Homo sapiens: one gene and its partner. The protein of the gene in region 1 interacts with the protein of each later gene in a pairwise test. Each region holds a gene or a part of one and is shown on either strand. Other genes may lie near its edges. The genes, in order: ITFG1 and SERBP1.

Evidence for each region.
Region 2: the proteins of ITFG1 (region 1) and SERBP1 interact in a two-hybrid assay, tested with the Homo sapiens proteins (one large-scale study listed by BioGRID and IntAct).

The regions. Positions count from the first base shown.
Region 1 is NC_000016.10:47,153,852-47,157,353, reverse strand, and holds the end of ITFG1 (T-cell immunomodulatory protein isoform 1 precursor), read left to right. Parts: intron 1-1,575; coding exon 1,576-1,635; 3' UTR 1,636-2,963; downstream 2,964-3,502. UniProt on the Homo sapiens protein: Modulator of T-cell function. Has a protective effect in graft versus host disease model.
Region 2 is NC_000001.11:67,413,403-67,417,231, forward strand, and holds part of SERBP1 (SERPINE1 mRNA-binding protein 1), read right to left. Parts: intron 1,938-3,829; coding exon 1,764-1,937; intron 1-1,763. UniProt on the Homo sapiens protein: Ribosome-binding protein that promotes ribosome hibernation, a process during which ribosomes are stabilized in an inactive state and preserved from proteasomal degradation.

The DNA of each region.
Region 1 (3,502 bases):
CTTAAGCAGGCTGGCTCCTTCTACCATTTTCTCAATGCAGGCTTTCCCCAGTGTCTGCCCCTGGCCCTCTTCTTTCAACACTTTCCCTGCCAATTTCATCTAAAATCATGGCTTCAGATATCCCCAGCTCTCATCTCTAAAGGTCCTTCCCCATTTCCAACTGTCACCATGATAGCTCAACCTAGATGACTTACAGCACCTCAAAACCAGCATTCTAAAGCTTCATCTCTCTTACTTAACCTACAAGATTTCATCACTTGCCTATGGACTCTGCCTCTGTAAGAAGTTCTACAGCTGACTCCACTTCTACATTCCTACTGCACTGCCCCTTCTTACATCCTACTTGGTCTCTTTCTTTCCGTTCTCTCCCCTTTCCATTCTCTCCCCTTTCCATTCCATTTAGCACACTGCTGCCAGTGATTCATTCTGTTTAGCCTTCATCATGTCACTCCCCTGCTGAAAAAGCTCTAGTGAATATCCATTGCCTTTTATGTATAAAATCCTTGGCCTGGCCTGCATATGACTTCCATGTGACTCCACAGTCGTATTTTTTACCAGTTGCTTTCACATATCCGTGCTCCTTCCAGCCTTCTCATGATTGATCATGTTGTAACCCCAGCTTGGAGTGAATACCACTCTCCCCATTTCCATACTTTCAAATGCTTTCCCTGTCTTTTCAAAGCTTTCCCTTTCCTCACCCGGATCTAGAAGTAGTCTCTTAGACTTGGTAACATTTTTCACTTTTTATCTTGAACTACAGTTATACAATATGTTTTGCATTTGTCTTTTTGGAGAACAAGATACAAAACGGAGGTTTTTTTAATATTAAAATAGCAAACACAGTATTGGTATTGGGAGTATTAGAAGCAAAGGGCCAATGAATATCTGCTAAATTGACAAGTTAATGAAAAAATAATTAGTACATTAGTACTCTGTCACCCAGGCTGGAGTGCAGTGGTGCAATCTTGACTCACCGCAACTTCCGCTCCTGGGTTCAAGCGATTCTCCTGCCTTAGCCTCCCAAGAAGCTGTGATTACAGGTGCCCACCACCACACTCAGCTAATTTTTGTATTTTTTTGGTAGAGACGGGGTTTCACCATGTTGGCCAGGCTGGTCTCGAATTCCTCACCTCAAGTTATCTGCCCTCCTTGGCCTCCCAAAATGCTGGGATTACAGGCATGAGCCACCACCACACCCAGCCATTAGATTTGTTTATTAACATCATTGTTAAAAATGACAGAAAAATGCAATCATTGATTCATCCTTATAGAATCTAATACTTATTCCTATTTTCAAGTAGATAATAAATGATAAGAAGCTAAGTATTTAAGGACCCTAAGTATTTAATGTGCCTTAAGTATTCAAGTATTTATTGTTTTTTAATCAATTAGATCATTAATTATAAAATAGCTACTATAAACTACAAAAATACTAGGACTGTTGAATTAGGAAATCATATCTATTATCTGCTAATTGCTGGAGACTTTTAAAAATGAATCACTGTGTATTTCAGAAATGAGTCTTTTCATAACATCTTTCTACCATTTATAAACGAGTCTAAAATTCTTTTTCAGAAAGCAGATGATAGAGAAAAACGACAAGAAGCCCACCGGTTTCATTTTGATGCTATGTGACTTGCCTTTAATATTACATAATGGAATGGCTGTTCACTTGATTAGTTGAAACACAAATTCTGGCTTGAAAAAATAGGGGAGATTAAATATTATTTATAAATGATGTATCCCATGGTAATTATTGGAAAGTATTCAAATAAATATGGTTTGAATATGTCACAAGGTCTTTTTTTTTAAAGCACTTTGTATATAAAAATTTGGGTTCTCTATTCTGTAGTGCTGTACATTTTTGTTCCTTTGTGGAATGTGTTGCATGTACTCCAGTGTTTGTGTATTTATAATCTTATTTGCATCATGATGATGGAAAAAGTTGTGTAAATAAAAATAATTAAATGAGCAGGAATTTTTGTGTCCACTTGACTTGGTCTTGCTTCTTATTCTAATGATGCAAATTATACTTTTGTGAATATATCACGGAGTCATTAGGCATTCAGCTTCATCACAGCAGGTCAGGGGTCTCACTGATGGCATACAATATAGTGATCGGGTACTCTGACTTGGTAGCACAGTAAGACAGACTTGCCTTAAACTCCTAATTCAACCACTTACAAAGTCATTGTTTGAACTTGGCTCTTGTTTAACCTCTGTAAACCTCAGTTTTCTTGTTTATTCAGTGGGGCTAATACTTGAGTTACTGTAAACATTAAATGGGATGATGTATGTGAAGTGCTTAGCTTGGTGCCTAGCACAGAGTAAGTGGTCAATATGTGGTAGTTGTCATTATTAATATTTTAGATGATCTTATTAGACTTATACATCTAATTATAGAAATACATAGACTTGATAGAATTTTATTTTCAGGCATGAAGAAATATTCTTTGGAAAAGCTAAATTTTTGGTGATTGACATAAAGATTTACTTGCTCATATTAACTAAAAATTATAGTACTCTCCAAGAATTAATGTGCCCTAAAAATTTTCCTCCAAAAACTTATCCTTATCATGTGATAATGAAGAACATTTGATTTCTTGAAAGGAAACTGCTGTAGGCAGCATCTGGGAATGCAAATCTTCAATCACATTTCTATTCTCAAACACTTGGAGAAGTCTATAATTTACATTCAGACTTCAATGCAAATTTTGTATTGTGAACTTCACATTTCCAAAAAGTTACTTTAAAAAGACTTTAAGACTGAAAAAAAAAAGTTTATCAATGCTAATAATTTTCTAGTATGCAAATGGACATGTGATGCCTATAAAACACAAAAATTTCTCTGAAAACAATTTTGTTCTTATTTTTTTCTTTATAGTTCACTGAGATTGGCATGTGTTTTTACTTTGTATCTAAGCATGTTAACATGTCTTCTTAATAAATATTCCTTATTGAAACAAAGTATTTCAGTGAGTTTTTAAATAATTATTTTAGAGCATGAAGAGACCTTAGAGCTTATGAAAGCATTTATCTGGACTGGGAGACCAGGGTAAGGTGACTTGCCCACTGCCTCTCTGTGGGTCACGGGCAAGATAGGATTCTCCTGACTGTAATACTCAGTTAAATTCACTAGTTATCAGCCCACAGCACTGTCCCAGGCACTACGTGACACTTTCTCAAAGATAATTGGGATCATTATTGATATAGCCTGAGTCTTCAAACTCATGTGAATCAGAGTTTACAAGACAAATAAAATGTTAATGACAATTAAAACTACAATCAGTGACATTAATACTGCTTCTGTATTTCCAAATGCAACTTTAATATCATTTATTAAGGGACAGCAGGTAAAAAATGTATCACAACATTGAGAATCACTAACAAAAACCTTTGTTTTGATTTTGAATATTGCAGTGGAAAGAGAGCAAGGCTTTGAAGTCAGACCAGTCTGGATTCAGGGCCCAGCTCCCCGATTTCATGACTCTGAATCAGTCAC
Region 2 (3,829 bases), on another chromosome or scaffold:
CTTTGGGAGGCCAAGGTGGGTGGATCACCTGAGGTCAGGAGTTTGAGACCAGCCTGGCCAACATGGTGAAATCCTGTCTGTACTAAAAATATAAACAATTAGCTGGGTGTGGTGGCAGGCACCTGTGATCCCACTACTCAAGAGGCTGAGGCAGGAGAATCGCTTGAACCTGGGAGGCAAGGGTTGCAGTGAGCCGAGACTGTGCCACTGCACTCCAGCCTGGGAAACAGAGTGAGACTCCATCTCAAAAAAAAAAAAAAAAAAATCCTACTGTTAAAATTCTAGGTAAAATGTATCAAGACAAAATTATGGATCACAAAAAAACTACAAGTATTTGCAATGAGCCCTGTCCTAAATTTCTACCAAGGCCTATTTTCATTCCAGAGTAATAATATGGGTTGTTTTCTTTTTCTCTTTTTTTTTGGAGACAGTCTTACTCTGTTGCTCAGGATGGAGTGCAGTAACATAATCTCAGTTCACTGCAACCTCCACCTCCTGGGTTCAGGTGATTCTTGTGCCTCAGCCTCCCAAGTAGCTAGGTTACAGGGATGTGCCACCACACCTGGCTAATGAGACAGGGTTTCACAACGTTGGCCAGGCTGGTCTCAAATTCCCAACCTCAGGTGATCTGTTCACCCAGACCTCCCAAAGTACTGGGATTACAGGCGTGAGGCAGTGCGCCCAGCCCAGTTGTTTTACTTTTTCCAATAAACCATACAAGTAGATTCATAAGCAATTATGTATGTGAATTCGCATTGTTCAGTATTCTTATACTTTTTCCACTTGCTAAATAAGAATGGCACCAATGTGAAAGCATGCTAAGGAACTAATATCTAAGTAGCAATAATCATCAAGGTTGAAAGTCTGAAAAAAGGAATCCAAACTGCTCTTTATAGCCTAAAGTATAAATAACAGAACTAAAAAAGAAAGTATGGGAAAAGCCCATCAACACAACCACCACCTTAAAAAAAAAAGGTTGGTCTTAGAGGGAGGAACAAAGTATCATTACACTGGCAATGGTAAGTTACCCCTGTAATCATCAAAAACAGACTCAATCAAGTAGGTGGGTCCCCAAATTTGTGTGTAAGGTGTTGAGAATTTAGGAGGACATTATGGTTGTTTCCAAGCATCAGATCTGAGTTCAAATCTATCAATTACTTGGGAATTCACCAAAATATTTCTCTAAGAACTTGTTTTGTGCCACATACTGTTCAAGGCATTGGAGAGATTATAGAAAGTAAGCCAAAAATGAATCCCAGCTCTCACAGAAGAGTCTAGTAAAAGAAAAAAGTGTCAACAATCCTAAGTGTCGTAAGAGGAATTATACAAGGAACACAATGGTTATTAAGTGGAGACCTAAAAAGCAGTTAGGAATTATCAAAGTGAACAGACTGGTTTTCAGGTAAGCCTTAGCAAAGGCCAAGAGTTAACCTGATTCACTATACCAGAATTTTCTCATCTGGAAAATGAGAATGTCATCACAGTAACAAGAATTAAATGACATTAAGTACATAAAATGCCTAGCCCAGCACCATGACCGGCACCTAGAAAGAACTCAAAAGGGTGGTAACTTAACACTACTAACAGCACTACACAAAAAGGCATTTAAGTGCTTTAAACATAAATATAACCTAACATGCGGTTTCTTAAAGACACTGCTACTACTTCTACTTATGTTCCCAAAAGTGACATAAGTCTGACCCAGCCAGTGACTTATAAGAGGTCCTTAAATTATGTAAAAGGAAAAGAAAGTCTTAAATTACCTTGTCGGTCCTGCTGCCACGGTTTGGGCGCCCACCACGCCCACGTCCACCTCGTCCTCCCCTGCCGCCACGTCCTGGGCGGCCAAGGTCTCCAAAATTGATCTCCAGCTGAGACGTTATATCATTTGCTGGCTTCCGGAAATGATGGTCCATAACCGAATCTTCAGCATGAGCCTAAAAATATAAGTGAAGATGATTGTGTTATTAGTAGAAAAGTAACATTGCAAAATTTCTAAATAATGAGCTTTCTTCTAAAAAAAACCAAAAATCCAAACTGTACTTTCTGTGAACAAATGTCTCAATGCCTCCACAGGTAACAAGCTAGGGCTCAGCTTTAGTGATCCTGGAGGAAGATTTTCCTGCACTTTTCTCTATCTCAAAATTGCAGGTAATACCAGCAGTCCTCAACTAAAGACATGTATGCTATCACAATCAACCCAAACGGCTGAAGCCCATCCTAGACCTACTGAATCATAATCTTTAGCAGTGAAATCTGGACAAGTACATTTTAAATATGCCCTTCAGATCAGGACTGCCATGTGAATCCTTGATGAAGACCTCTGGAGAGATGACATATAAGGTTACTACTAGCACTAACACTGAAGTTAAAAAGAACACTCAGAAAGAAAAACTCTGTTCTACACTCTTCCAACTACAACTAGGGTAAAGACCTTACTAGATATAAACTTCTCAGAAGCATTTTCTGTTAATACACAACCACTACGTTTTTCTACACAAATTGGAGAGCTACAAATTCAAGTGAAACACTACACACTTTACATAAAGAGGGGAATCTTGTAAAGCTATGCACAAATAAAACCACACCTTAAATGTGTCACAGGAACCTTTTTTTTTTTTTTTTTTTGAGACAGGGTCTCACTCTGTCACCCAGGCTGGAGTGCAGTGGCACGATCTGGGTTCATTGCAACCTCCACCTCCCAGGCTCAAGCGATCCTCCCACCTCAGCCTCCCAAGTAGCTGGGTCTATAGGCACATGCCATGACACCTGGCTAATTTTTTTGTATTTTTTATAGACAGGTTTTCACAGTGTTGCTCAGGCTGGTCTCAAACTCCTAGGCTCAAGCGATCCGCTGGCCTTGGCCTTCCAAAGTGCTGGGACTACAGGCATGAGCCACCATGCCCAGCTAGAAACTTCTTAAAAATGAAGTCATGTTTGTGAAATCCAGATCCTCTTTTCTATTTGCGTTTAAGATACATGACCCAGTCTGGGGGAAAAAAGCAAAAAGCCAGACAATTCTATACTGCTTCATGCCTGATGTCTTCTTGTACGCTTGGGATGGGTTTTAATCTTCTAGTTGAAAACTGTACTTATAGGACTTGAAAGTACAGCTTTCTTTTCCTCTTTTCCTAAATACATCTAAGGAATCTTCTTTTCTAAAGGGATAAAGAACATTTTGTTCTTTCATTAGAACTTGTACTATTACAATTCCATTAGACTCAACTTAAAATATTACAGCTGTTAATAACTAGCCTTTAAAGTACAAATAAATTTTTGTGTTTTTATCCATGTTTTCACCCCTTACATCAACTCATACTAGTATTAAATGTCACTCCTTTGTACCAAACCAACACACTGTAAGGCAATAGAATGTTCTAATACAAATTTTAAAGGAGGCTAGAAACATAAAAACAAATTCACAAAACACCAGCAAATTAGAATCAATTATATATACTAATTGTGTGATTTTTAAATGTTTGCTATTTCAAACCAATGCTTTCAATTTATTGCAAACCACAGATCGAAAATATTCAGAAAAAAATAAAACCAACCAACCATATAACAATAAAAAGTAGGCCAGGTGTGGTGGCTGACACTTGTAATCCCAGCACTCTGGGAGGCATAGGCAGAAGGGCTGCTTGAGTCCAGGAGTTGGCACAGGTGTGTAGTTCCAGCTACTCAGGAGGCTGAGCTAGAAGGATCGCTTGAGCACGGGGAGGTTGAGGCTGCAGTAAGCTGTGACCATGCTACTGCATTCCAGCCTACATGACAGAGCAAGACCTTGTCTCAAAATAAAGTGTATGAGGGAGTGCTCACTTTGGCAGCA